Homo sapiens: one gene and its partners. The protein of the gene in region 1 interacts with the protein of each later gene in a pairwise test. Each region holds a gene or a part of one and is shown in the gene's direction. Other genes may lie near its edges.

What was found.
Region 2: the proteins of PPIG (region 1) and DAB1 interact in binary tests that used the Homo sapiens proteins (3 or more experiments, as listed by UniProt).
Region 3: the proteins of PPIG (region 1) and TFCP2 interact in binary tests that used the Homo sapiens proteins (3 or more experiments, as listed by UniProt).
Region 4: the proteins of PPIG (region 1) and PNMA2 interact in binary tests that used the Homo sapiens proteins (3 or more experiments, as listed by UniProt).

What each region holds. Positions count from the first base shown.
Region 1 is NC_000002.12:169,579,178-169,587,645, forward strand, and holds the start of PPIG (peptidyl-prolyl cis-trans isomerase G), read left to right. Parts: upstream 1-5,173; 5' UTR 5,174-5,313; exon of another isoform or gene 5,314-5,320; intron 5,321-5,622; exon of another isoform or gene 5,623-5,722; intron 5,723-8,468. UniProt on the Homo sapiens protein: PPIase that catalyzes the cis-trans isomerization of proline imidic peptide bonds in oligopeptides and may therefore assist protein folding. May be implicated in the folding, transport, and assembly of proteins.
Region 2 is NC_000001.11:56,994,278-57,001,060, reverse strand, and holds the end of DAB1 (disabled homolog 1), read left to right. Parts: intron 1-2,913; exon of another isoform or gene 2,914-2,932; 3' UTR 2,933-6,283; downstream 6,284-6,783. UniProt on the Homo sapiens protein: Signaling adapter of the reelin-mediated signaling pathway, which regulates the migration and differentiation of postmitotic neurons during brain development.
Region 3 is NC_000012.12:51,113,818-51,121,581, reverse strand, and holds part of TFCP2 (alpha-globin transcription factor CP2), read left to right. Parts: intron 1-2,809; coding exon 2,810-2,961; intron 2,962-3,834; coding exon 3,835-3,911; intron 3,912-5,161; coding exon 5,162-5,267; intron 5,268-7,764.
Region 4 is NC_000008.11:26,503,837-26,511,272, reverse strand, and holds the end of PNMA2 (paraneoplastic antigen Ma2), read left to right. Parts: intron 1-1,595; 5' UTR 1,596-1,725; intron 1,726-2,029; 5' UTR 2,030-2,517; coding exon 2,518-3,612; 3' UTR 3,613-6,572; downstream 6,573-7,436.

The sequences.
Region 1 (8,468 bases):
CAACAGAGTTGGGCTCCACGGCAGTGACTGCATGATTGGCAGAGCCTGTGGGAGTCCACCATTATCAGTCAGTCTGTCCAGTGGTCCATGCCTCAGAGCTCAGACAACTGCCTGCACCCAACCTCATGCCTGTAGCAAATGATGCCAATGCAGCAAACGCAATTGGGCAGCTGGGACACGTCTAGCTTCTGGATGCTCACTTCCTGACAGTTGGCAGCCCACACTTTTTTTTTTTTAAACAGCTTTACTGAGATTTCATTTACGTCCCATAAAATTCACCCATTTAAAGTGTACAATTCAATGGCTTTTTAGTATATTCACAGAGTTGAGAAGCTATCACTCACATTTAGAACATTTTCATAACTCCAAAAAGAAACCCTGTAACCATTAGCAGTCACTCCCCATGTCTCCCTCACCCCCTCCTGTCCTCCAATACTTTAGACAACCACTAATCCCAGACAATAATTTTATACAGCACTGATTTGGGTTGCTTGGAACTAGATCAACTGATAATAGATCTGAGATGAAGGTAATCTGAATGCACAGCATAGAAGGGGTTTTCAAACAAATGTAAGAAAAACATAGAGATGAAACAGCATGATCCAAGTCATTGCCTTCCAGTCAAAAAACACCAGGAACACATATAGTTAAACAAAGTTGGGTTTATTGACTGGTTGCAATGAAGTAGGCTGTACCCTAAGAGGTGTCTCCATAAGAAGGTGTTAGAAAGTTGTCATTATAGCATATAGTCTTGGCCAGGCACAGTGGCTTACACCCATAATCCCAGCACTTTGGGAGACTGAGACAGGCAGATCACTTGAGGTCAGGAGTTCGAGACCACCTTGGCCAACATGGTGAAACCCCATCTCTACTAAAAATACGAAAATTAGCCAAGCATGGAGGCACATGCTTATAATCCCAGCTACTTGGGAGGCTGAGGTGGGAGGATCACTTGAATCCGGGAGGCAGAGGTTGCAATAAGCCAAGATTGCACCACTGCACTCCAGCCTGGGCAACAGAGCGAGACTCTGTCTCGAAAAAAAAAATTTTTTTTAGCCTTGTGTTAAGTGATTTTGGAGAGTTTTAGAGTGGTTTCTCTAGATTGGATGCTGTGAGTAAGCAAGGGTAATTCTATTCTAATAATCTTGATCTAGAAGGCAGGAAGAATGAACTGAGGTTAAAGCTGTAATTGATAAAGAAACAGCAGCCATTCATATTAGCAAGGATAGATGGATATTTCGTCTTTTTTTTTTTTTTTTTTTTGAGACAGAGTCTCACTCTGTCACCCAGGCTGGAGTGCAATGGCACGATCTCAGCTCAATGCAAGCTCCACCTCCCAGGTTCACACCATTCTCCTGCCTCAGCCTCCCAAGTAGCTGGGACTACAGGCGCCTGCCACCACACCTGGCTAATTTTTTGTATTTTTAGTAGAGACAGGGTTTCACCGTGTTAGCCAGGATGGTCTTGATCTTCTGACCTTGTGATCCGCCTGACTTGGCCTCCCAAAGTGCTGGGATTACAGGCGTGAGCCACCATGCCCGGCCGATGTTTGGTCGTTTTTACAGTTTGTACAATGTTCTTGTTTTTGTCTGAAACAAGATTATGGAAGTGTCTGGTTTTTTCCTTGATCCATCACAATCAGAGAATGGCATGCTTTTAAAAAAAACTAAACATATTATTGGTGATACAGTAGACAACTATTAATAGAACAAACAACAGTTTGTTGTTGATCTATGGGTAGAAACAAAAAGTTTTATTACTCTAAAGCAAAAGTCACAGGTAAAGTAAAGGTTAATTGCAGTAGCCCAGCCAACCTACCTCCCTTCTTCTGGTATCAAATCCCATTCCTCATACTACAATGACTGAAGTGATCCAGGCTAGGCCAAATCTAATACTTTAGGCTCACAGCCTATTAGATTGGTAGTGGTATCTGGTGTAACAAATAAAGCCAAACATCAGTGATTTAACCCACATAATTTGATTTATCAGTCACACCACATTCCAATGTGGATATCCCTAGTCAGTGGAAGAGGACTTTTCTCCAAACAGAGATTCAGGGAAGTAGACCTTTTCCATAGGCCCTTCCCCAGGGCCTTAAAACATTCTGGTTCAGCTGACAAAACAGGAAGAGAGGGAATGGAGAAGGCATAGCACTTCACAAACATTTTGGCCTGGATGTCCGCTCACTTTCCACTGACACAAAGTATATTTTATTTATTTTATATTTTATTTTATTTTATTTTATTTTATTTATTTTGACATGGAGTCTTGCTCTGTCACCCAGGCTAGAGTGCAGTGGTGCAATCTTGGCTCACTGCAACCTCCACCTCCTGGGTTCAAGCGATTCTCCTGCCTCAGCCTCCCAAGTAGCTGGGATTACAGGTGCCCACCACTGTGCCCGGCTAATTTTTGTATTTTTAGTAGAGCTGGAGTTTCACCATCTTGGCCAGGCTGGTCTCAAACTCCTGACCTCGTGATCCACCCATCTCAGCCTCCAAAAGTGCTGGGATTACAGGCATGAGCCACCACGCCCGGCCCCAAAAAGCATTTTTAAATCCTTACCTATGGGATAATAAATGTTGTTTCAAGCCACTAAGATACAAGGGGACAGCTAAAAAATGTAGTTCTTAGCAGAACAGACACTTTCCAGTGACACCCCCTACTATGTAAGTGGGAGTACAAATTTTGGAGCTGTTACTGCTATGTTAGTAAAATACTTCTCTGGCATTTGATGATTCGGGCTGGCAGAAACTCAGATCCTTATGATGTGAGGTCATCACTGGGTGAGGTGGTACATACCTGTAGTCCCAGCTACTCTGGAGACTAAGGTGGGAGAATCGCTTGACTCCAGGAGTTCAAGTCCATCCTGAGCAACATAATGAGACCCTGTCTCTAGAAAAAAAGAAAAAAAATGAAGCTATGTAGAATTAGACAAGTGAAAAGTTCCGTGATAATCAGTCTATTCTTTCTTCTCTGTGTCAGTTATCCCTTGCTGTGTGACAAAATCATCCCAAAACTTAGTGGCTTAAACAACACTTATTTATATATATATACACATATATACACACACACGTACATATATGTGTGTGTATATATATGTATATATACACATATATAGTATATGTATACATACACACACTAGGATAATAAATATATATATAAATATATATAAGGAAACTATAGGATAACAAATGTTGTTTATTATATACACTATACATACAGTATCCTTCCATTTATTTATTTTTATTTAAGTTGTGGGGTACATATGCAGGTTTGTTACAGAGGTAAACTTGTGTAATGGGGGTTTGTTGTACAGAATATTTCATCACCTAGGTATTAAGTCTAGGACCCATTAGTTATTTTTCCTGATCCTCTCCCTCCTCCCACTGTCTACACTCTGATAGGCCCCAGTGTGTATTGTGCCCCTCTATGTCTTCATGTGTTCTCATCATTTAGCTCCCACTTATAAGTGAGAACATGTGGTACTTGGTTTTCTGTTTCTGCATTAGTTTGCTAAGGATAATGGTCTCCAGCTCCATCCATGTTCCTGCGAAGGGCATGAGATCATTCTTTTTCATGGCTGCATAGTATTCCATGGAGTATATGTACCACATTTTCTTTATCAAGTCTACCATTGATGGACATTTAGGTTGACTCCATGTCTTCGCTATTGTGAATAGTGTGGCAATGAACATACATATGTGTATGTCTTTATAACAGAACAACTTATATTCCTTTGGGTATATACCCAGTAATGTGATTGCTGGGTCAAATGGTATTTCTGCCTCTAGGTCTTTGAGGAATCGCCACGCTGTCTTCCACAATAGTTGAATTCATTTAAACTCCCACCAGCACTGTAAAATGTTCCTTTTTCTCCACAACCTCACCAGCACCTGTTATTTTTTGACTTTTTAATAATAGCCATTCTGACTGGTATGAGATAGTATCTCACTGCGGTTTTGATTTGCATTTTTCTGATGATTGGTGGTGTTGAGCTTTTTCATTATGATTGTTGGCTGCAAGTATGTCTTCTTTCGAAAAGCGTTGGCCGGGCGTGGTGGCTCACACCTGTAATCCCGGCACTTTGGGAGGCCAAGGAGGACGGATCACCTGAGGTTGGGAGTTTGAGACCAGCCTGACCTACATGGAGAAACCCTGTCTCTACTAAAAATACAAAAAATTAGCCAGGCCAGTCTGTGGCCCAGGGGTTGGGGACCCCTGTTTTAAGGTATTGCAGAATTGTCCCCTCCACACACAGCGAAGTGTAAATCCGTTTAATCTCTGAACTATCTAAAGATGAATATGCTGCTGCTCTCCTGCAATAAAGGGCAATGACTTAAAAGAGGTGGGGGTGGAGAGGCAGAAATGTCCTCTGTTTTACTGCTGTGTAAAACTGGTCACGCCCCTTAGAAGCACCACCACATGCCTAACTGTTGTTGATAATTAATTTACCTGATGCAAGTGAGTGAAAAATTTAAATGATCATAATTTACGTTGCCTTTAAACGACAGAACAATTTAAGTCCTCTAGTTAGCTAGTTCCTTTAAAACACACCCCACATCCCTACCAGAATCACTGCCCATCCCCCCCCACCCCCCCGCCCAAACAGCAATGGTTATTTATTTCTAACATAATCCGGGGACCCTTGCCCCTTAAAATAATTAAATAATATATGCCATATTTTCTCTAGAAGGCACTAGATTTGGCATCAAAAGACTTGCTTTGGCATTCAAGAACAGTGTGTTTGAGGAGGAGGCGTTTATCTTCCCTGAGCCTCAATTTCTTTATCTGTAAAACAACAAAGAACATCAAAGCTCTTTGTAATTTCTTCCTCTTTCCTCAAATAACACTTTGCTCATTACTGCGTTTTTAGAACTTATATCCTAGCGTTAAGTGGAAGCTTAACTGGAAGCTCCATGAAGGTAGGCCTTCCTTTCTGATAACCTAGCGTAAGATCAATAAATGTTTATTAAATGAGGCACTTTACTTCACAAAGGATATGGCATTTTAACGGTTACAAGCGTTCCCAGTCAACGCATCCACAAAGCATTAGGCCACCTATAAACTAGGAATTTAAAAGGCACCAAAATCCTAGAAGTCCTAGGAGGGCGTGGTGACGCAAGCAGGTGAACGCTGGCCGATGCTGACAACCCACTCCTGACGCGCTTCCGGTGCGACGCTGTCTCTCCATGCCAGGACTGAGTTGTGGGGGAGGGAGGCGGTTAGCGGGCTTTAGCGCCTTTTCTGGCGGCGGTAGATTTGAAGCGCTTCAAAGGACCGGACCCAGAGAAGAGGAAAACTCTACCGGTGCAGGTAAGTGGTATGAGGCTCAAGTTGTTCTGGCGGCGTCATTTCAGCAGTCCCTGCGTACGAAAGCGGGAAGGGCCTGGGAAGAGGGGCGGAGCCGGCGCGGCTGACCGGGTTGGGTTTACCGTCTTTCCCTCGAGGTATCGGGGCTGCTTGGGCCCAGAGGAAGTCCCTGAGGACCGCAGCAGTGCCTTTGCCGCTGTTGCAGAAGGAGAAGGCTTGCAGTCGAGCCCCGGGGCCTGGGGACGGTCCTTCCTCTGCCAGCCCCCGCCCTCCCCACTCAGGCGCACACCTCCCTCACTGACGCATTTTGCCGCACAAGCTGTAACATGGCGGCAGCGACTGCGGCCTGAACTCTAGGGAGCCGGGTTGATTTTTAAAGCTTCAAAATCCTAAGACTCAGCACTGTTGCGGGGTAGGTGGCGGGACTGGTGGGGAAGGGGGAGACAGCCTGACGTCCTGTCAGGCTAGGGTTGGAGAGTGACGGGCGAAGAGCCTGAATCACAGGGATTAAAATTGAAGACTAGCTTTCCTCCTCTTTCGACCTTTTCCTCTCACAGCACAGTGGCTGTCGTGCAGTTAAGTGGCAGAGGCCACTTTGTTAAGCATTTTTCTAAAACTCAAGTCCAGGGTCTTGAGCTCTCGCGAAGTTCCCCCGTGTTTCGGAGGAGCTGTGAGCTGCGCAGGCCTTTTAGGAGGAGATAATTACTCTTTAGGAGGAAGATGATGATTTCGGGGCTCAGTATGCCTGAAGGGGAAGTATGCTAATTTGGTTCTTGGTTAGTCTTTTTTTTTGAGACGGAGTCTCGCTCTGTCGCCTAGGCTGGAATGCAGTGGCGCGATCTTGGCTCACTGCAACCTCCGCCTCCTGGGTTCAAGTGATTCTTCTGCCTCAGCCTCCCAAGTAGCTGGGACTACAGGCACGTGCCACCATGCCCGGCTAATTTTTTGTGTTTTTAGTAGAGACGGGTTTTCACCGTGTTAGCCAGGATGGTCGATCTCCTGACCTCGTGATCCGCCCACCTCGGCCTCCCAAAGTGCTGGGATTACAGGCGAGAGCCACCGCGCACGGCCAGCTCATGTTTAGTCTTAAGGAGCAAAGTCTAGATGTGCTGGCAAGGAGTATGCACAATCGTTTTGGAAATGCTATAAAAGCACCATTTTGTGCATTGATTTTAATTTCTTTCCACGATAGCCCTTTCTGTGTGTAACCAACATTTTGCAGTAGTGAACACAAATACAAAAGTATTTGCTTTTATAGTTTGGTACTAACATAGTTGTCCAAAGAACAATTAGATGTTTTAGAAATTAGGGGGGCCTGATATTAACTTTCAGTAGTTAAAACCAGGAAAAAAGAGTGAGTGTGTGTGTGTGTCGGTCACACACACGTTTTTGTCTTTGTGTATTCCCATTTGGTAACAGGATGGCCGGTAATTGCTACTTTGTAACAATGACGGGTGGGGGGGTGAACATTTTATAAATTTTGAAATCGTGCTATAAAATCCAGAAAAGATACATTTAGAATGGCTGCTTCTCTCCTGTTTTTAATATATCCTGAAAATTTACCCGTTTTAGCACTCCCCTTTTTTTTATGTTAACGAGTTGGGACAGAATTATTTCTGTAACAAATTACATGGTTCTGTGTCTTAAACAAGAGTTCATTGTACATTGTTTGACTATTTCTTTATGATTCAGAATTATTGATGCTCTGAGATCCTATAGGGTCTTGTAGTAGGATTCTGCGCATTTGAATTGTTGGTTTCCTTTTTAAGGCTTTTCTAGGCAGTCAGTTGTCAGGAGTGCTCCTGCTGTCAGGAGTGTATAAGTATGTAAACTTCTTAGGTTAGAAAAATTTGGACTTTCTGGCCCAATTATCTTTCTGAGCTTCAGTTTCTTCACCTACCTGCAAAATGACATTTTGATCTCCACCTTCCATCAACTGTGGGCTTGAAAATTAAATACTCAGCTTTGTTAAAATTGTGTGTGAAGTTGGCTTTCATTAACTCAGTGGTTCCTTTATGGGTGAAGAGTGTTCATTACATTTATTTTTAACCATATAGTCGATTTACTGTGGTGCTTATTATTGTGGTCTTGCAGTATTGGTGACTTCTACATATTTTTGATATTTTGCCTTAAATTAGATTTTCTGTGAGGCAGCATCCTCTTCTTTATACAAAGGGAAAGTGGAAGCCATTCATAATAAAGTACTTCTGTTAGGACACTATCTGGGGTTAATTCTTTAAATAGTAGTTGCCCCTTTAGTTAGGCTTTTTTCCTTCCTATTAGTTTATAAATAGAGTATTTAAACATAATTATAACATGTTGTCTATTTTTAGAATCCCAGTGTACTAAGATGTCATGAAGGAATACATAGATAATTAATGCAAGTGACCTGAAGAGTTTGTTGCAAGTCTTTCTGTTGCATTGTGGCATTGCATGCTTTTTGCTTTTATTTATTTATTTTTTTCAGACAGAGTCTTGCTCTGTCGCCCAGGCTGGAGTGCAGTGGCATGATCTCAGCTCACTGCAACCTCCACCTCCTGAGCTCAAGGGATTCTCACGCCTCAGCCTCCCTAGTAGCTGGGAGTACAGGTGCCTGCCACCACACCGGGTAATTTTTATATTTTTAGTAGAGAAGGGGTTTCACCATGTTGGCTACGCTGGTCTCAAATTCCTGACCTCAAGTAATCCATCCGCCTCCGCCTCCCAAAGTGCTGGGATTACAGGCGTGAGCCACTGTGCACTGTGCCCAGCCTGACTTTTGCTTTTTTTTTTGAGACAGAGTCTCGCTGTCTTGCCCATACTGGAGTGCAGTGGCGTGATCTCGGCTCACTGCAACCTCCGCCTCCCGGGTTCAAGCAATTCTTCTGCCTCAGCTTCCTGAGTAGCTGGGATTACAGGCATGTGCCACCACACCCAGCTGATTTTTGTATTTTTTATAGAGATGGGGTTTCACCATGTTGGTTAGGCTGGTCCCAAACTCCTGACCTCATGATCTGCCCACCTTGGCCTCCCAAAGTGCTAGTATTACAGGCGTGAGCCACCGTGCCCAGACCTTTTTGCTTTTAATGTTAGGACTAAACTTCAATTTTCATGTTGCTTAAGTGTCGGTGATTTTCCCTGGTTTAATGCATAAATGGTCACCATAAGAACTCGGTATT
Region 2 (6,783 bases), on another chromosome or scaffold:
CTGCTGGGGGTTTTCCACACCACTGCTCCCCTTCATTAGTGGGGATAATTGAGAGTTGACTGCAGTCGTTACTGCTGTTGTGATGGGTATTTGAAGCTAAATTCGGGCAAGTAGGAGATGTGTGAATATTTATCTCAGCTGCAGAAACTTAATGCAGTGTGGCATTAATTACCCTGTCTGAGCCTGCTGTCTTCTTCTGTTTTTAGGTGTCATTTTCAGTTGGATAAATTAGTTTCCAAAATTAGAATAGAGCAAATTGTAGGGTGAGATCAAGGCAGCCTGACTTCTTGGGGCATCCAAAAAGAAGAATGAGCTGAGAACATCTATCCAGGAAACATTAATATGCGTGCTTGAAGCCCAGCACAGGCAAAAGGAAATATTTTTCCCCAGTAGTTGTACTTAACTATTTTTGACTCCACCTACTGCACTTGTAGAACACAAACACACAATAAAGTTACATGTTTAGCCTTACAACATGTATTTGAAATAGTTCAAGAGACTGGAAAGGAATAGATTTGGTGTTTAATAAATCATAATCTTACTATAGATTTTGCTACATTTGATTTTGAGAGAATAAAGCCAAATTGGAGTGTATTTAGGACAAAGGGATCAGAACTGTGAGGAAACTAGAAACAGCATTATAATCATTCAGTAATTCAACAGACTCTCATTGAGGACCTACTGTGCTAGGTTCATATTTGTAAAATGGCAGAAGGAGGCCTGGCGCGGTGGCTCACACCTGTAATCTCAGCACTTTGGGAGGCCGAGGTGGGCGGATCACAAGGTCAGGAAATTGAGACCATCCTGGCTGACACAGTGAAACCCTGTCTGTACTAAAAAATATAAAAAATTAGCCGGGCGTGGTGGTGGGCACCTGTAGTCCCAGCTACACGGGAGGCTGAGGCAGGAGAATGGTGTGAACCTGGGAGGCCAAGCTTGCAGTGAGCCGACATCGCGCCACTGCACTCTAGCCTGGGCGACAGAGTGAGACTCCATCTCAAAAAAAAAAAAAAAAAAAAAGGCAGAAGGAACTGGCAAGTGGTAACCTAGAAGTAGGACATGGAAGAATGGGCTTCCGTACTTTTCTGTCATCAGACATTTGGACGAAGGATTGTACTTATTTACATTTCCAAGGGCAGTAGAAAGTCTACGGGCAGAAGGCATGGAGGGACAAGTTGGCACTTTGTTACACTGCATAATAGGGTGCCTCCAAGGAAAGAAGTTCCTTCCCACTGGAAGAATACAAACATAACAAGTTCTAGAGGAACCAGAAATTGGATCTGATGGCAGGAGTCTTGGGGTCTACTCTTGGCATGGATACTAAGTAACCCTGTGACTCTGAAGAAACAAAAGCTGTCTTCACAGGACTTCAGATTCCTCATCTGTACAATGATGGGCCAGTACAACCTTATCTTCTAGGCCATTCCACTTTACAGTAGAAAGCAAGCAATATGATATGCTACACACAAGAGACAGCACAATGACCTTGAGATCACACAACCTTTCAGAACTTCAGTTTTTATCTGCAAAGGGAGGACTCAAAAAATAAAAGCCACCCTCAGGACTATAAGGCAGATAAATAAGACATGAGGTGCTTTGTAAACTCTGAAGCACCAATGGATGGAAAGATTGGGGTCTCTCTCTCTCTGTCTCTCCCTCCTCATGGTCACTGTTGTAAAAGATTAGAAAAAGCACTGGCCCCTGGACCCTGTTTTCAGTTCTCATGTCTCTAGACTTACTAGCTGTGTGACCATGGGCAAATTATCTAACTTCTCTGTGCTTAATTTCACCCTTGCAAAAGAGATAAAGCATCTGCCTTACAAGGCTGTTGTGATGAGATAAAAAGACAATGTACTTGAAAATACCTAGCATGGTGCCAGACACATGGTAGGGGCTCCCAGAATGCCAATTCATTTTGAAGTTTCAAGAAAAAAGCAAATAATAAGAACCTATATGACAAGGCAGGGGACAAGCTAATATATCAAATATGGTAAAATTAGGATTTCATTGTGCCCGTTTAATTCTGGCACAGACCTCCAAGAGTGACAGCATAAAGGTCAATTTTAACAGAAGGTCCTGTGCATGCTTAAAACCACAGTATCCATCAAATCTGCTTGGCCAAGGCACAATGAGCCATCTCAACATCAGCTGAAGTCTGACGGGGTTTAAATAGGGCCGAACGCTGTTTCCTATCTAGGTGTGGATTGCAGGTTTGCTGCATTACATGCTGGTTGAAAATCCCTGTATGTGTTTCAGGACAGCCCCCTGGGTGCAGGCAAATGACTGGCCAAAGTGGAGGGCTCAGACTGAATGGAAACAAGTCCAGAAGTTTGTGATTAAGAGACAAAGACACACTTGCTGTTTCTCTGGCTCAACAGTGCACCCAGGCATCACTATTTGTAGAAGAGCAATTTGAAATAGAATTTCAGGGTTCTCAAGTGGACATTTATGAAACTGTGTTGGAAAAATGTCCACTTGTCTCATGGTAATTGTTAGCAATTTCTGAAGATGTATTGCTAGCAAGCATTGTGCTAGATACTTTATATGTGTAATCTCTAATTCCCTCAAGAACCCCGTAGGATAAACAGTACTATTCCCATTTTGTGGTTGGAGAAACCAAGACTCAGGATAAGTATCTTGTCCACATGACACAGCTTTTCTAACTCTCCCTACTATACCATGCTACTTCCCTAACAGGGCAATCAGTTCCAACTTGAAAACGAAAGACAGAACTGAGTGCATAGCTATTTTGGATAATAAAAATGTTGCCAAAATGTTATGCACCCTGATCAAATACTCCAAAAATAACCTAAGGTCATCCATCATAAACTGTCACTTTTCTGTTTTAATCCTAAACCCCTTTTCCCAAAGCTGTCTCAGAAAATCCATGCAAGTGTAAAGAGCAGGCCTCACTTTGTTCCTTTATCCACAGGAGCCAGAGCCTCTGTACGCGCAGATCAACAGACCTAAGAAATAGCATCGATGCGAGCTCGTGGTGGGTGCTCAAGACTGGCATGGACATCAGCATCACGACAGGCTCTCTTGTATTCTTTCACCTCTTCCCACAAGAAATTCATGATTGCCCAATGGAACTCGCTCAGAAGAGGGAACTAAGCATTTTTGGCAACCAATGGCAGATATCTATGGCAGCACACAAAAAAAGTATAGAAAGATCCACCCAACATTAAATCAGAAATCAAGCAAATGCTTACCCAACAAATATTTGAGCCCTCATAGCTGGGTTTAAGATGACTCAGTGTGCAAAATTATTAATTCCCTTTTTATTTCTCTACCTGTTGACCACTGTTGAGACACCAAATTTGGAGTGACAGGCATCAGAGGATTACAACAGGGTTGGAACTGACTTCTTTAAGCAAAAGCAAAGGGTCTTCTGTGACCACAATATCGTCATCCATATGCCTTTTCACATAGGATGATGTGTTTTTTGTCACTCCATGGGGCCTGGTCTGCCATTTTCCCCCCTTTCCTTTTTTTGTCATGTTTGAAAATTAATAGGTGTACAAATTTTTGTATTGCTTTTGACTTTTTTTAGATATGGGTGAAGAAATCTAACTGGGGAGAAAAAAAGCCTCAGTGAAATGAATTAACTTGAAATTACAAGACAAATAAGTGGTTGATTATTCATTATGATCACGAATGTTGCCAAAACAGTCCTTTAGCTATTCTGCATCCTGGTGAAGAAAGACAGCTTTCAGTACGAACCTTCATTCTGTGAGTAGGAAAAGACATCAGATCCCATTGATGAGAAAGATGAAAAATGCATCTGATTTCTTAAGAAGCTCTAAACTCTAAGTACAATAAAATGATATTTTTTATTTTTCCGATATCTTGCTGCTGTGTTGCTATGCAGACAAGTGTCTTCTCCACGTGCCATTTTCAAAGAAAAGTCATTTGCCAAATAATTCTGGTACAATTCTGGTAATGTGGTTTTGGATCTTAAAAACCAACTTTCTAATGGAACAATGGTGGCATAAATATTCAGAATAACAAACTGATTCTGTGGTCCAAATGGTTCATCTCTATCTCTTTTTGTACATCAGAAAATTCAAATGGGATTTTTATTTTATAACTTGAAAAAAAAACCTTACCATTAAACTCTTTAAATATTTAAGGGAAATGGCTTTAAGGAGTTCTAATGAAAAAAAATTGTCTTTTTTTTGTAAATATAAATGTTAATGAAAATGATTTTTAATAATGCCATTACACTGTAGAGAAGGTAGCAGATTGAGTGCAAGGTGTGACAAACTTGATGGATGGGGCTCACTTTCCAGACGTTATTCTGGAGCATATGGTAGGAAGCTGGAGTGCAGGGACAGCTGGCAGGAGCAGTTGGCCAATCAGCAGCTAGTGAACGGGAAGGGAGCACGTGACTCCATCATCTAGCCTTTCCACGAGAGTCCCCACCCTACGTGCAACACAAGAAAAAGACAATTCACATTCTGAAGAATTCAGATTCTGAAACTCTCCCACCTCCCCACTCCCACCTACCCCCGATATAAATCACTGGACTGTTTGTACGTGAAACAGAAGAGGCTAAGCTTCCTTTTTTTACACTTATGAGACAAAAAGTGCAGTGTTTGGTTCGTATGTTTAGCACATGATTTTCATAAAGAATCTATATATTTTTGCCCTACAGAGAATTGTTATACAGGTCAAGTGTGTTTTCCTGATGTTCCTATGCAGTTACAGTATGTTGAAAGTGTTTTAACACTAAGAAGAAAACTTTAAAGATTCATGTGATTAATTGGATTTGAGGATAATTATTATTATTTGGTTTTTAGATTTGAAAAGTAGAATTTCCATTGAGACAATTGATTTGAATAGGCCTGCATTTGATTCTTCATATCAATAGAAACTAAAATGATTTGGGAGATTCATTTGAAAAATGATTGTATACTTGTTCACAAAGCGAAAAGTGATACATGAAGGTAATGGTTATCATTTAAAGCCCACATTTTACACTATCAGGTCACAGGAGTCTAATTTTTTTTTCAGTTAGATAAACTGACCAAACGTCTATTCAAGAATATATGTCAATATCATCCTAATGTGGAAGGTCCGAAGAACCAGAAAAGTGAGAAGGGCCGTTTACCTCCCTCTGTAGCTATCACCTGTTGGTCCACAGAGTTTCTTGAGAAATGAGCAAACATTTTATGATTAGGTAACCCTTTCACATGAACGGGAAGATGGGAAAGGTGGAATGACCATAAGAGTTGGCCTGAGACCAGTTTGTTTTCTGGGGATTTGGTAAGATAGGCAGTTCCCATGGGAAATTGCTTAAATTGCTTTGTTGCCTATGATTTGATTCTAAACAAGTGGTGCTATCTTCTCCCTCAATATGGCTGTCTTGAGTTTGTCTTGCAGTATCACACCATTATACCAATTCTTTGGGTTGCTTCTGACACATTCAAAGTGAACTCTGGCTGATGTTGCTGTTTCAGGTATACCATCTGGAGTTAATTTCCTAGCAGAAGGTGAAAGTCCAGGAGAATTGTCCTCTTTCATTGAACATGATTGAAAATGTAACTGGCTCTGAACTTCAAGAAGATAGATGCCCAAGTGATGCATTAAAGTAAGGGAAATAAAGTCAAGTTTTTCAACTGCCATCCATATTCTCATTGGCAGAATTCTGATTTTTTTCCAAGCACTGTTTGGTGAGCCTGGAAGCACCGTATCCTGTCCCAGGAGTACAGTGAAATTTCCAAGCAAGAGCTGAGGTGCCAATACCAAAAGACCATGGGGAGTCTGCACGGTTCTGGTTAGATCAATAGAAAATCCATGTGTACAACTGTTAATTCCTCATCCTCCACTAGCACTAAATTTGTCACTTTAAATTTTGAAACCAGGGAAACACCACCTGTCATTCTGTCCCCATTCTCCATAGCTCTTCAATCTTTACATGCCGCAAGACTTTTTTGATAGCTCGTACTCATCCCAGTGTCTCCTGAAACCCCATCATGTAATGTACTGGGCACCTTCTTTTAAACAAATGTTTACTCTGTGGGTTTGGTTCATTTCAATTTCTGCGTTCTGACACATATTTTTTTAATAAAGATGAGAAAGAGAAAATGACTGTTGCAGTACCTTTCTAGACCTACTTTAACTTTACCTCAGATGACAGTTTGTTAACATATATGGACACATTATTTTTAACTTTATGTACAATGCATTCAACAGAACAGCAAAATTTTTAGAAATTTTCCATTAATTTCTGTAACACACCATGTAAAACTGTTACAAATAAACATGTTTGAGAACAACACTTTAGCCTGGCTTTATTCTACAAGTTTCCACTGGATATTCAGGCTTGGATCGGAAGAGGAAATTGCTTTACCTAAGATTCCATCTGACCAAGTGACAGCCTGTGTTTCCCTGGCCCTGAGCTAAAAAGAGCAAGCTTTATTGGGGAGTAAGGTCAATTTGTCAGCCCTCAGTTGAATTCAAGTGCTTGCTATGCTTGGAAAAGCAGCCCCAGACAGGAAGGAGGATGTTGTCAGAAAAAAAGCAAACCCTGGGTAGATGTGGTATTTGGACCACATTTAGCATGAGACGTTCAAAACTGGGAAAGACTCTGGGACTAGCCCTGTGGATTGTGTCTTCCCCTAAAACAAAACAAAAAAAACCTATTAAACTATTGATTGGAAAACCGAGATTAATCTAGACTGTCAAAGAGTTCCCCATCGTTCATTTTAAGGTCATCTGCTTTAAGGGACTCAAGAAGGAAGCATTTATCTTTCTTTACATTCCCCTCAAAATCCACAC
Region 3 (7,764 bases), on another chromosome or scaffold:
AGGCAGGAGAGTCACTTGAACCCGGGAGGTGGAGGTTGCAGTGAGCCGAGATCGTGCCACTGCACTCAAGCCTGGGAGACAGAGTGAGACTGTCTTAAAAAAAAAAAAAAAATCACTGGATTCCTGACTTCTGATCTTTTGGGGGAATATTTTTTTTTCTTTTGAGATGGAGTCTCGCTCTGTCTCCCGGGCTTCAGTGCAGTGGTACGATCTTGGCTCACTGCAACCTCCACCTCCCAGGTTCAAGCAATTCTCCTGCCTCAGCCTCCCAAGTAGCTGGGACTAGGCGCGCGCCAACGCGCCCGGCTAATTTTTGTACTTTTAGTGGAGACGGGGTTTTACCATGCTAGCCAGGCTGGTCTCAAACTCCTGACCTCAAGTGATCTGCCCCCCTTGGCCTCCCAAAGTGCTGGGATTACAGGCATGAGCCATACCGTGCCTAGCCAAGGGAATCTTAATTGTTTCTTTTATTTCATGTACCCTGTTCCTTTTCTTTTGTACCCAGAAGTACTCTGTGGCCTATATATATTTTTTCTTTTTTAAAAAAAACTTTACTGTGGAAAATTTCAAACATATACAAAGTAAACAGAATAATATGATGAACCCTCTTGTACTCATCACCTTGCTTTAACATGTTACTACTCTTTTTACCTTTTTTTTTTTTTTTTTTTTGAGACACAGTCTCGCTATGTCGCCCAGGCTGGAGTGCAGTGGCACAATCTCGGCTCAAGTGATTCTCGTGCCTCAGCCTCTGACATAGCTGGGATTACAGATGTGTGTCTCCACACCCATCTAATTTTTGTATTTTTATTAATAGTAGAGATGGGGTTTCACCATGTTGGCCAAGCTGGTCTTGAACTCCTGGCCTCAAGTGATCTGCCTGCCTTGGCCTCCCAAAGTGCTGGAATTACAGCCGTGAGCCACCACACCTAGCCCTCTTTTATTATTTTTACTTCTACCTATTCCCCATCCTCTAATCAATAATTTTTTTTTTAGGTAAAATTCATATACAATGAGATGCAAAAATAAGCTGTTACAGTTACAACCACGTAGCAGACCTATCATAGTATAATACATTTTTATCTCCCTACAAAGTTCCCTTATATACCTTCCAAGTCATCCCCTGCCCCACCAGGAAACCATTGTTCTCTTTGGCTCTGCCTGTTTTAGACTGTCATATAAACAGAACCATGCATTACACATTCTTTGTGTCCGGCTTTTTTTGTCGAGCATTATATCTGTGAGATTCATCCGTGTTGCATTCCTTTGTTTCACTGAGTAGTCCATTGTATGGATATACCATGGTTTGTACATCCGTTCTCTTACTCATGAACATTTAGGTTCTTTCCAGTTTTTATTTTTTTGTTGTTGTTGTTGTTCTTTTTTTTTTTTTTTTTTTTTTTTGAGACAGAGTCTTGCTTTGTTGCCCAGGCTGGAGTGCAGTGCCACGATCTCGGCTCACTGCACCTCTGCCTCCTGAGGTCAAGTGATTCTCCTGCCTCAGCCTCCCAAGTATCTGGGACCACAGGCATGCGCCACCACACCCAGCTAATTTTTGTAATTTTGGTAGAGACAGGGTTTCACCATGTTGGCCAGGCTGGTCTCAAACTCCTGACCTCAGGTGATCCACCCGCCTCGGCCTCCCGAAGTGCTGGGATTACAGGCGTGAGCACCTGGCCTAGTTTTTGCTTTTATGCTGTGAACATTTATAACAAGTCTTGGGTGGACTTACATTTTCATTTTTCTTGGATAAGTACCAATGGGTGGAATTGCTGGGTCAATAGATGCATGGTTAATTTAATTTAATTTTTTTAATTAATTTTTTTTTTTTGAGATGGAGTTTCGCCTTTGTTGCCCAGGCTGGAGTGCAGTGGCACCATCTCGGCTCACTACAACCTCCACCTCCCGGGTTCAAGCAGTTCTCCTGCCTCAGCCTCTTGAGTAGCTGGGATTACAGGCATGCGCCACCACTCCCAGCTAGGTTTGTATTTTTAGTAGAGACAGGGTTTCGCCATGTTGGTCAGGCGGGTTTCCACCTCCGGACCTCAGGTGATCCGCCCACCTCGGCCTCCCAAATTGCTGGGATTACAGGCATGAGCCACTGTGCCTGACTGCATGTTTAATTTTATAAAAAACTGCCAAACCTTTTCCTAAACTGTTTTATGTCATTGTACATTGCTACTGACAAAAGGATGAGAGTGTGGTTTTACATTCCCACTGACAAAGGATGGGTATGTGTCTTTGGTTTGCAAGTTTAGATAAACTGATAGATACAAAAAGCTTTTTCTTAGAGGAAATGGCTTGTAGGAACATCTCAATATTAGTTGTTATTCCACAGAATGTAAGATGACCTTGAAATATATACTCGTTATTGATTTGTCCTTTTCACGTGGCTTCTAAGGAATTGTAGAAGTTATTTTAGTCCTTATAGTAAATCAGCTGATATGGTTATATAGATAGTATAGTTGTTGCCTTTCTGAGAATGAAGACGTTACTGAATGTCCTAGATTTATACATTTTAGAACTCTGTTTATAATTTCCACAGTCCTTTTAGGAACCCCTGTCTATGATTCCTAGAAACATTCTCTTTAACACTTAGTGGTTTTAGCAGTGAATATCTGTCATCACCCACACTGTTGTGGTCAGGGGGATATCACAGCAGGTAATCTAAATGGAATTCTTGGGATGAAACTCCACCAAGGTGAGTAATGTTTATGGCTTTCCAAAGCATTGCAGTTAAATCATTCAGCAATAAACCTGCGTTTGCACCATTGCCAGGTATTAATGTGAGTCATTTGTTTTATTTTAGTGATGTCCTTGCATTGCCCATTTTTAAGCAAGAAGAGTCGAGTTTGCCTCCTGATAATGAGAATAAAATCCTGCCTTTTCAATATGTGCTTTGTGCTGCTACCTCTCCAGCAGTGAAACTCCATGATGAAACCCTAACGTATCTCAATCAAGGTTAGATGCTTCCTCATTCATTAGTACTATTGCAGACCTACTGTATTTATGATTTTTTTGTTTGTTTGTTTGTTTTGAGACGGCGTCACCCAGGCTGGAGTGTAGTGGCGCCATCTTGGCTCACTGCAAGCTCTGCCTCCCGGGTTCACACCATTCTCCTGCCTCAGCCTCCTGAGTAGCTGGGACCACAGGCACCCGCCACCACACCCGGCTAATTTTTTTGTATTTTTAGTAGAGATAGGGTTTCATCGTGTTAGCCAGGATGGTCTCGATCTCCTGACCTCATGATCCGCCTGCCTTGGCCTCCCAAAGTGCTGGGATTACAGGCGTGAGCCACCGTGCCCGGCCATTTATGATGTTTTATTAGGTACACTTATATGTAAAAACTTAGATCTTTCTAGTGTGGCCTATCAAACTAGAAGTCCTACTTCAGAGATTTGAGTTCTAATGTCATACTTGATATCTATTACTAGCTTCTTTTGCTTAGCTGTCCATTTTTAGTGTCCAGCTTCCTCTTCCTAATCATATTCCCTAGACACTCCCATTGGTTACTGTCTGAGAAGTATTACTCTACCTGGCTCTATTATTTACCAATTGTGTGGCCTTGGACAAGTTGCTAAAACTCTTTTAAGTTTCAATTTCTTTGTCTGTAAAATGGGATTGATAATACCTTAGAAAAGTATATCAGTTAAATGAGATAATGTGACAATACTTAGCACAGTGCTGAGCATCTTGTAAAGGCTTCTGATTGTTGTTACTAATACTAATAATATTATTATACTGTTGTATATTCAACCAACTGAATTTTATTCTTTCCGAATCTAGCAAAGTTAATTTGTGGTGAATATAATATGTAATTACTTTTTCTTCTAGGACAGTCTTATGAAATTCGAATGCTAGACAATAGGAAACTTGGAGAACTTCCAGAAATTAATGGCAAATTGGTGAAGGTAAAACGAATAAATCATTCTTCTGTACAATATTTTTTACTAATCCTTTTGGGATTTTAAATTTTGTTGTTGTTGTTAATGTTCTTTTGCTTCCAATGGCTTAATGGTATCTCTTGCCTGCAGTAATTTGTTGGCAGAGTAGTAAGCTGATGTGTTATTTCTTTGGGGTCAGAGTAAGCCCCAGTATTCACATGAATTTTTCAGAGCTGCAGAAATAGAACGCTTACCACTCCCTGTCCAGGGTAATCACCCCTGGCTCAGTGAAGTTCTTTTGGGTGGAGTAAAGTAACCTCCTTGAGATCTTTAGAGAAGCCTCAGTGTCTTTTTTGATACTTAGTCTTATAGCAAGGAAAACAGAAGCTACTTTGATGAAGAGCAGTTCTCTTAGTCTAGATTAACAGTTAGGATTTTGATAATTCACAGCACAGTTGAAACAGAGGAGTTTTGTCAAAAGGTGGTGGGAGGAATTAATAGGCACTTCTACAAAGTAAGAGTAACAAAAGGAAAGTTGATGGAAACAGGCTCTACCTACCCTCAGTGTTTACAGGTTGTATGGTGGGTTAGCAAGCGGGGGAGTTGGTGAGTTTTTCATATACATCTGAAGAGCTAAGCCAGATAGGCCGTGGTATAACAGAAGAGGTGTGCAGAAACGCTTCAGACAGGAGTACTTTATTCCTAGTTACCATCGGACTGAAGTTTAAGCCAAGTTTTAAATATGGTACCAGTTAACTATAAAGATTCTATCTGAGAAATTGGCTGGACCCGGTGGCTCACGCCTATAGTCCCAGCACTTTGAGAGGCTGAGGCGGGCGGGTCGCCTGAGGTTGGGAGTTTGAGACCAGCCTGACCAACATGGAGAAACCCTGTCTCTACAAAAAATACAAAATTAGTCAGGCGTGGTAGCACATGCCTGTAATCCCAGCTACTCAGGAGGCTGAGGCAGGAGAATTCCTTGAACCCGGGAGGTGGAGGTTGCGGTGAGCCGAGATCACACCATTGCACTCCAACCTGGGCAACAAGAGCAAAATCTGTTTCAAAAAAAAAAAAAAAGATTATATCTGAGAAATTATAAAATTTTATCCTGAAATAGCACTTAGTATGGTATGGGTTTTAGAGTGAAACAGATCTTAAGAAAAATAATTTTAGATTGCGTTTAGAAACAAACTGGCAGTGAATCCTGCTAGTTTTTCTTTGTCAGCACTGATTTTCAAGAGGTCTTGTTATCATCTGATTTTGTTGTATCCTTTTAGAGTATATTCCGTGTGGTGTTCCATGACAGAAGGCTTCAGTACACTGAGCATCAGCAGCTAGAGGGCTGGAGGTGGAACCGACCTGGAGACAGAATTCTTGACATAGGTGAGTTAAGAGAATCTATTGCCTAGGAAATGCCTTTAGCTATGGACCCAGAGTTGGTTTTCTTTATTTGACATTTACCTTGATTCATATGCTTGAGAGGCTCAATTAGTATAAACCTTGAAATTATTTACTAAGCATAAAAAATTTTAAGTAATACAAGTTAAAATGATATCAAAATTGAAGTTGGAAGTGTAAACACTTTAGTTCCATAGCAACTATAGGTTGATTTTGTTGTTTTTTAAGTTGTGGTAAAATATACATTACATAAAAGTTATCATTTTAACCATTTTTAAGTGGATAGTTCAGTAACATTAGGTACATTCACATTATTGTGTAACCATCACTATCATCCATCTCCAGAACTTTTCTCATCTGCAAAACCAGAAGTCTGTACCTGTTAAACAACAACTCCCCATTCTCCCTTCTTCACAGCCCCTGGTAACCACTATTCTCCTTTCTGTCTCTATGAATTGGACTACTAAGTACTGCATAAATGAAATCATACAGTATTTGTCCTTTTGTGACTGGCATTTTTCACTTAGCATAATGTTTTCAAGGTTCATGGTATAGCATACATTAGCATTTCCTTCCCATGCAAGGCTGAATAATACTCCATTGTGTGTATATATCACACTTTGTTTATCCATTCATCCCATGATAGGCACTTAATTTGATTCCATTTCCTGGCTATTGTGAATAATGCTGCTATGAACATGGATGTACAAATATGTGTTTGAGTCTCTGCTTTTAATTCTTTTGGATACATATCCAGAAATGGAATTGCTGGGTCATATGGTAACTCTATCTTAGATTTTTTTTAGAAACCACTATATTGTTTTCCACAGTGACTACACATTTTACATTTCTACCAGCGGTACTCAAAGGTTCCAATTTCGGCCGGGCGCGATGGCTCACGCCTGTAATCCCAAAACTTTGGGAGGCCAAGGTGGGCAGAACATGAGGTCAGGAAATCGAGACCATCCTGGCTAACATGGTGAAACCCCGTCTCCACTCAAAATACAAAGAAATTAGCTGGGCGTGGTGGCGGGCGCCTGTAGTCCCAGCTACCCAGGAGGCTGAGGCAGGAGAATGGTGTGAACCCGGGAGGCGGAGCTTGCAGTGAGCCAAGACCACGCCACTGCACTCCAGCCTGGGTGACAGAGCGAGACTCTCTCAAAAAAAAAAAAAAAAAAAAGGTTCCAATTTCTCCAATCCTTGTCAACACTTGTTGCTTTCCTTTTTTTTTTTTTCCTGAGATGGAGTTTCGCTCTTGTTGCCCAGGCTGGAGTGCAATGGCGCGATATCAACTCACCACAACCTCTCCCTCCCAGGTTCAAGTGATTCTCCTGCCTCAGCCTCCAAGTAGCTGGGATTACAGGCATGCACCACCACACCTAGCTAATTTTTGTATTTTTGGTAGAGACGGGGTTTCACCATGTTGGCCAGGGTAGTCTCAATCTCTTGACCTCTTGATCTGCCCGCCTCGGCCTCCCAAAGTGCTGGGATTACAAGCGTGAGCCACCACACCTGGCCTGTTGCTTTCTATTTTTTGATAATATCCATCCTGATGGTTGTGAAGTAGTATCTCATTGTGGTTTTGATTTGCATTTCCCTGGTGATAAGTGATGTCAAGCATCTTTGCATGTGCTTATTGGCCATTTATATATTTTCTTTCTTTCTTTATTTTTATTTATTTATTTATTTATTTTTGAGATGGAGTCTCCCTCTGTCGCCCAGGCTGGAGTGCAGTGGCATGATCTTGGCTTACTACAACTTCCACCTCCCGGGTTCAAGCGATTTTCCTGCCTCAGCCTCCTGAGTAGCTGGGATTACAGGTGCCCGCCACCACACCCAGCTAATTTTTGTGTTTTAGTAGAGACAGGGTTTTGCCATGTTGGCCAGGCTGGTCTTGAACTCCTGACCTCAGGTGATCCACCCGCCTTGGCCTCCCAAAGCGCTGGGATTACAGGTGTGAGCCAAGGCTCCCGGCCCATCATTTATATATTTTCTTTGGAGAAATGTCTGTTCAAGTCTTTTGCCCACTATCGAATTGGATTGTTTTGTTTTTTTTGTTATTGAGTTGAAAGAATTTTTAAAATATTCTGGATATTAACCCCATAGCAGATATATCACATGCAAATCTTTTCTGTTATTGTGTGGGTTGCTTTTTTACTGTGTTGATACTATCCTTTGATGCACTAAAGTTTTACATTGAGGTGGTCCAATTTATCTAATTTTTTTTAATTCCCTGTGCTTTTGGTGCCACATCCAAGAAATCATTGCCAAATTCAGTGCCAAGAAGCTTTTCCCATATGTTTTCTCCTAAGAGTTTTATAGTTTTAGGTCTTATATTCAGGTCACAGGTCCATTTTGAGTTCGTGTTTGTATATGGTACAACCATATACAAAAAAGGTTGTATGGTAAACCATATACAGAAAGAAGGGCCCAACTTCATTCTTTTGCATGTGGATACCCAGTTTTCTCCACACCGTTTGTT
Region 4 (7,436 bases), on another chromosome or scaffold:
CCCCATTCGAATTGATGAAGATGTTTAGGCCAAGGGGGAAATGGTTGTAGCCCCTTAACACACACTCCGCAGCAGTAACTGGGAGGTATTAGGAACTCTAACTTTTTTTTTTTTTTTTTTTGAGACAGAGTCTTGCTCTGTTACTCAGGTTAGAGTGCAGTGGTGCAATCGTGGCTCACTGCAACTTCCGTCTCCCAGGTTTAAGCGATTCTCCTGCCTCAGCCTCCCAAGTAGCTGGGATTACAGGCACGTGCCACCACACCCAGATAATTTTTGTATTTTTGGTAGAGACGGGGTTTGGCCATGTTGGCCAGGCTGGTTTCGAATTCCTGACCTCAGTGATCTACCCGCCTTGGCTTCCCAAAGTGCTGGGATTACAGGCATGAGTCACCACGCCTGGCCAACTCTAACTTTTTTACGTTCTCTAATCCTCACAGGTTCTCCAGAACAAAATCCTTGATAGGTGTGCTTCCTCCTTTTTTCTTTTTTCTCAAATGATGGGTTAAAGTTCAAATGTTAGGAAAGGCTGGGTGTGGTGATTCAAGTGTGTAATTCAGCACTGTGAGAGGCTGTGGCGGGAGGATTGCTTGAGCCCAGGAGTTTGAGACCAGGCTGAACAACGTAAGGAGACTGCGTCTCTACACAAAATTTAAAAAACTAGCCAGGCATGGTGGCATGTGCCTGTGGTCCCAGGTACTCAGGAGGTCGAGGTGGGAGGATTGCTTGAGCCCAGGAGAGATCAAGGCTACTACAGTGAGCCGTGTTTACACCACTGCATTCCAGCCTCGGCAACAGAGTGAGACCCTGTCTCAAAAAACAGAAACAGAAACAAATGCTTGGAGAGTGTTGTGTTAGTAACTTATTGTCTTAGTCTATTTTGTGTTGCTATAAAGGAATACCTGAGGCTGGATAATTTATAAAGAAAAGAGGTTTATTTGGGTCACAGTTCTGCAGGCTGTACAAGAAGTATGGTGCTGACATCTGCATCTGGTGACCCCTCAGGAAGCTTCCAGTCATAGCAGAAAGCAAAGAGGGAGCAGATGCGGCAAGAAAGGGAGCAAGAGTGAGGGGAGGGAGGTGGCAGTCTGTTTTTAACAATCAGATCTCGAGGAAGCTAATAGAACAAGAACCCACTCATTACCCCAAGAATGGCACCAAGCCATTCATAAGGGATCCACTCTCATGACCCAAACACATCCCACCAGGCCCCACCTCCAACACTGGGGATCACATTTCAGCATGAGATTTGGAGGGGACAAACCTTCAAACTATTTCACTTACCATTCATAGCAAAAGCAAAGCCCAAATGTGTGTTTGCAAAGCCTTCCAGACACAACAAAAGAGAATTAATTCATAATTCCCGATTTAACTTAGTCGGCCCTGAGATTTTTTTCCCTGAATTGTTATACCTAGATTAAACTATTTTTAAACGTTTGAGTGATTCCTCATTAGTTTTGTTAATCAAAGAGGTAAAGCAACTTAATATTGAGTAGTATTGTGAAGGATTATCATATTTTTGAATAAGTGCATTAACGGTCTTCCTACTGAATATTAATGAAGCATAAATACCTGTTCTTATTGTTTATGTGTAACAGAGCAGCTTGGCTTGGCTGGAGCTAAGAGCCAGACACACCACTGTGTGGAGGTGGGTGATGTCTTCCTGTGCTAAAAGGTGAATAAATAAGCTCCTCACCTCTCGCGGAACACTCGGGAACACATCAACAGGTATTTAGCCACATCTCCTGATTTCATCTTTCAATGGCAAAGACCTTGAATCCTGTCCTTAACTGGGGCTCAGACATTAATCAACAGGTCTGATGAGCATATGGTGGGGACACCAGATTTCATTGGAGTCCCCAAGAGAAAAAAAAGTCACAGTGAGCAAAGAAGGGGTCTGACAGAGTGGGACAAATGCAAGCGCAGTGTAAAGCAGAACCGCCATCTGCCCCCAGTTCCATTCCAGATTAGAGTATGGATGCTTCCAAGGAAAGAGAGTGCTGTGTAGTAAAACTGAACATTGTTTCACCAGGGGTCCAAGCCGCCCTGCTGGGAGGCTTCTCTTCAAGAGTTCTGGGTCCCAGAGTGGAAGGCATTTTCCCATCAACTGGAGAGAGACGAAACATCAGAGACCAGGAGGCTGTGGAGAAAGCAGCTGTCCCAGGTGCCTCAACTATCAGAGAAGGGTCAGCGTCACGTGGCTGCCAGCATCTTTGAGAAAATCACTGGCAATCGGACTTCAGAGCTGCGGGCACAGGTGTGGTTAGAACTGAGATACGACCTGCCCACCTGGGTCAGGCCTAAAGACAAGAAGTCCTGAGTTCTTGCCACTGAGTAGGCCAGGGTCATTTGTCCAGAAAACTTTGTGACTGTCTTTGAGTGACCTAGTCTGGGACCCATTCATTGGTGGGTTCTAAGGTTAGAAGCTCATCCAGGATATTTTCAATATTAAGTCAGTGCATAGCTGCACCACTAACAAATTGGTGCCTGTAGAGTCAGAGTGGGTCAATTCTTAGGACAATGGCGCTGGCACTGTTAGAGGACTGGTGCAGGATAATGAGTGTGGATGAGCAGAAGTCACTGATGGTTACGGGGATACCGGCGGACTTTGAGGAGGCTGAGATTCAGGAGGTCCTTCAGGAGACTTTAAAGTCTCTGGGCAGGTATAGACTGCTTGGCAAGATATTCCGGAAGCAGGAGAATGCCAATGCTGTCTTACTAGAGCTTCTGGAAGATACTGATGTCTCGGCCATTCCCAGTGAGGTCCAGGGAAAGGGGGGTGTCTGGAAGGTGATCTTTAAGACCCCTAATCAGGACACTGAGTTTCTTGAAAGATTGAACCTGTTTCTAGAAAAAGAGGGGCAGACGGTCTCGGGTATGTTTCGAGCCCTGGGGCAGGAGGGCGTGTCTCCAGCCACAGTGCCCTGCATCTCACCAGAATTACTGGCCCATTTGTTGGGACAGGCAATGGCACATGCGCCTCAGCCCCTGCTACCCATGAGATACCGGAAACTGCGAGTATTCTCAGGGAGTGCTGTCCCAGCCCCAGAGGAAGAGTCCTTTGAGGTCTGGTTGGAACAGGCCACGGAGATAGTCAAAGAGTGGCCAGTAACAGAGGCAGAAAAGAAAAGGTGGCTGGCGGAAAGCCTGCGGGGCCCTGCCCTGGACCTCATGCACATAGTGCAGGCAGACAACCCGTCCATCAGTGTAGAAGAGTGTTTGGAGGCCTTTAAGCAAGTGTTTGGGAGCCTAGAGAGCCGCAGGACAGCCCAGGTGAGGTATCTGAAGACCTATCAGGAGGAAGGAGAGAAGGTCTCAGCCTATGTGTTACGGCTAGAAACCCTGCTCCGGAGAGCGGTGGAGAAACGCGCCATCCCTCGGCGTATTGCGGACCAGGTCCGCCTGGAGCAGGTCATGGCTGGGGCCACTCTTAACCAGATGCTGTGGTGCCGGCTTAGGGAGCTGAAGGATCAGGGCCCGCCCCCCAGCTTCCTTGAGCTAATGAAGGTAATACGGGAAGAAGAGGAGGAAGAGGCCTCCTTTGAGAATGAGAGTATCGAAGAGCCAGAGGAACGAGATGGCTATGGCCGCTGGAATCATGAGGGAGACGACTGAAAACCACCTGGGGGCAGGACCCACAGCCAGTGGGCTAAGACCTTTAAAAAATTTTTTTCTTTAATGTATGGGACTGAAATCAAACCATGAAAGCCAATTATTGACCTTCCTTCCTTCCTTCCTTCCCTCCCTTCCTCCTTCTCTCCTTCTCTCCTCCTCTCTCCTCTCCTCTCCTCTCTTTCCTTCCTTCCTTCCTTTTTTCTTTTTCTCTTTCTTCTTTATTTCTTGGGTCTCACTCTCATCACCCAGGCTAGAGTGCAGTGGCACAAAAATCTCGGCTCACTGCAGCCTTGACTTCCCAGGCTCAGGCTCAGGTGATCCTCACACCTTAGCCTCCCAAGTACCTGGGACTACAGGCACGCACCACCATGCCTAGCTATTCTTTTGTATTTTTGGTAGAGACAGGGTTTTGCTGTGTTGCTCAGGCTGGTCTGGAACCCCTAGGCTCAAATGATGTGCCCAACTCGGCCTCCCAAAGTGCTGGGATTACAGGCATGAACCGCCATGCCTGGCCCTTGATTTTTCTTTTTAAGAAAAAAATATCTAGGAGTTTCTTAGACCCTATGTAGATTATTAATGAACAAAAGATTAAACTCCAAATATTAAATAGTAAGCCTGAAGGAATCTGAAACACTTGTACTTCCAATTTTCTTTAAATAATCCCAAATAGACCAGAATTGGCCCATACCATAGAAGAAAGAATTGGCAGTCAAAAAAAAAAATACCTTTTGTAATGTTTGAAAAATAAAGCTGTTTGACTTGTCAGGTGTTTTCCTTTCTCAAATCAGCAAATTCTCTCTGAGTGCCTGGCTTTGTGAGACACTGTACAAGGAGTTACAAGACTACAGCTATAACCTGCAGTTGAGCAGTTATAAACCTACAAAATGGGCCCTGCCCTCAGAGAGGTTCCAGTCTAGATGAGGAGCTGATCTAGACAGGTAAAAGGCTAACTAACCCTTTGTGTAAATAAGTTCATCACCCCAGTAAAAGTGTCATCACCCAGTGAATAGGACCACCTCTGCCTGCAGATTTTTGTTGTTGTTGTTGTCATTGTTGTTGTTGTTTTAACCTGGGAAGTGTTCTTCCTGCCTTTCTGCTAGGTGTCAGATAGATGGTCCCAGAGCTAGGTGCTGTGTCAGGCCCTGAAGACACAGATGACTCAACCTAAGCTTTACTTTCCAGAGGTCCACAGCCTGAGAGGTGTCCCCAAAGAAAGGGGGACATGAGGGGACTGCATGCTTGAGAGCAGGGTTGTTTAGGGCAGGTTTGGATTTAGTGAGCAGGCTGGTTTGCTTAGAGAAGGCTTTTAGTGGCAACAAAGGATGAAGAGGAGAGAAAAGGAACTCACATTTATTGAGGGCCTACTGTGTGCAAAGTGTTTCATGTATATCTCATTGAATGTATACAGCCACCCTGTTGTGGTATAATTTTGCTCTTTATAAAGAGAAAGACCGAAGCTCAGATGAGTTAAGTGGTCTCCTCAACACCAAAATGCCAAGAAGTGATGGAGCCTAGACAGAAGCCCAGAACTTTCTGACTCACACTAGTCCATCCTCTACCATCACGATGACTTTCAAATTGTGCTCTGCAGTTCTGCAGATTTTCTAGCAGTGCCATCTCCAAAATGTGTTTTAAACTCTTTATTTTTTTAATTATTATTAGTATTATTTTGAGACTGAGTCTTGCTCTATCACCCAGGCTGGAGTGCAGTGGTGCAATCTCAGCTCACTGCAACCTCCGCCTCCCAGGTTCAAGCGATTTCGTGCCTCAGCCTCCCGAGTAGCTGGGATTACAGGCACCCACCACCACGCCCAGCTAATTTTTGTATTTTTAGTAGAAATGGGGTTTCACCATGTTGGCCAGGCTGGTCTCGAACTCCTGACCTCAAGTGATCCACTCACCTCGGCCTCCCAAAGTGCTGGGATTACAGGTGTGAGCCACCATGCCTGGGCTAAACTCTTTAAGTCTCTAGTAAATGCAGCTAGATTCAAATGGGCTGATAACCAAATTTTAACACATCAGCATTCACCACCAGGTTTACTTTTATTTTCAGATTGGCTCATTTTGTGCAGACCTTAGAGCAAAGTTTCCTTTATGGTATCTGTGTACGTATCCAAACTTCTTTTAATTGTTCACAGATTTTAAAAGCGGTAGCACCACATGGTTGTGTAGATCAGACCTGTGTATTTAGATCAGACCTGTGTATCACGTAAGTGTGTGAGTGCAGTGCAGATGAGCACCATTTAGTTATATGTGCTAGGCAAATCTCCAACACAGTTGATGTGTAGTCTTGTGGTAGATTTGTGCATACTGTAAGCAAATTGCTTAGCTTCTCTAGACATCAGTTTCCACATCTGAAAAATAAGAAGATGAGAGTACACGGTTGTTATGAACAAATGACTTAATGCTTTTTAAGCACGTTGCATGACATCTGGAACACAGAAAGCCCTCAATACATTGAAGCTCTTAGGATTTTCACGATGTTCCTGTCTGCTCAATGCATGCTTTCTTTATTGTTCTGACAGTTGTGTGGTAACAAGCTAATATGCTTCCAGTTGACTTCCAGTCTACCCTGGTGTTAGAAACCGTTTCATCTCTTATTGTAAATTTGAGTGCTTGTTGTTTTTTATATTTGTGATGACTCTTCCAGCAGTTGTTGACAATTGTTAGAGGTTTGACTTTTAAATAATTACTTATTTTTTCTGATTGTGGTTCAGTTTAACTGAAGAATATCCTGAGATTGTAAGAAAAGCATTTTTTAAAAGGTATCACTTGTGATCATTTATCTTTCTAAATTCTATTTTTAATACTGTTCCACCAAAGTGATGCAGTGGTTACCATGACACCCTAATTTCATGTGTTTTTGTATTTATGAAAATAGTTTCATTGTCATTTATTGGCGGTATACAAAGTAAAATGTTATAAATGTGAAGTTATAAAATAAATATATGCTAATAAAATCCTGAGTTTTTCTGTTTCCTATATCGTGGTCTCTATAAAGTACTGCTTGAAGAAGGAGCTTTGTTACTGAAAAATTTTGAGAGATAAGTTGAGAAAATCAAGCTAAAGCCAAAAGGTCTTAGAATCCTGTAGGCAAGAAAACCTGAAAGCAAAAAAATGCTTGAACAAGAATACTTGAACTATGTCTCTGGGGACAAGGGAGAGCTCGGTCCACCCATTATCGATTTCTCTTTTAAAATATACAGAAACAACAGATGGAGGTCAGTTGCCTCAGAGACCCCCCAGCTCATTTGCTTAGGAAAGTAACTGTACAGATAAATTCCCAGACTCTATTCTGCCAAGGGTGAATGACCCTGAAGGTCGAATATTGCTTTTCTGGGCTGAAGTCACCCTTTTTCTTCTTCTTCTTCTTCTTTTTTTTGAGACAAGGTGTCACCCAGGCTGGAGTATAGTGGCACAATCTCGGCTCACTGCAAACTCTGCCTACCAGCTTCAAGTGATTCTCATGCCTCAGCTTCCCGAGTAGCTGGGATTACAGGGGTGCACCACCACGTTCCAGCTAAGTTTTTGTATTTTTAGTAGAGACAGGGTTTCACTATGTTGATCAGGTTGGGCTCGAACTCCTGACCTCAGGTAATCCACCTGTCTTGGCCTCCCAAAGTGCTGGGATTACAGGCATGAGCCACCGTGCCCAGCCTGAAGTCACCTTTTATTCTATGGAGGTATATGGGGGGAAATTCCTCTTGCCTTTGGCCTTCTTGAAATTGCTTCTCCTTCTTTTTTCTAAAGTGCAATGGGGGAGTATCTTTCACTGGGCCATACATCCTGCAGACCAGCCCATTAAAGAGGAATGTCCCAAGGGG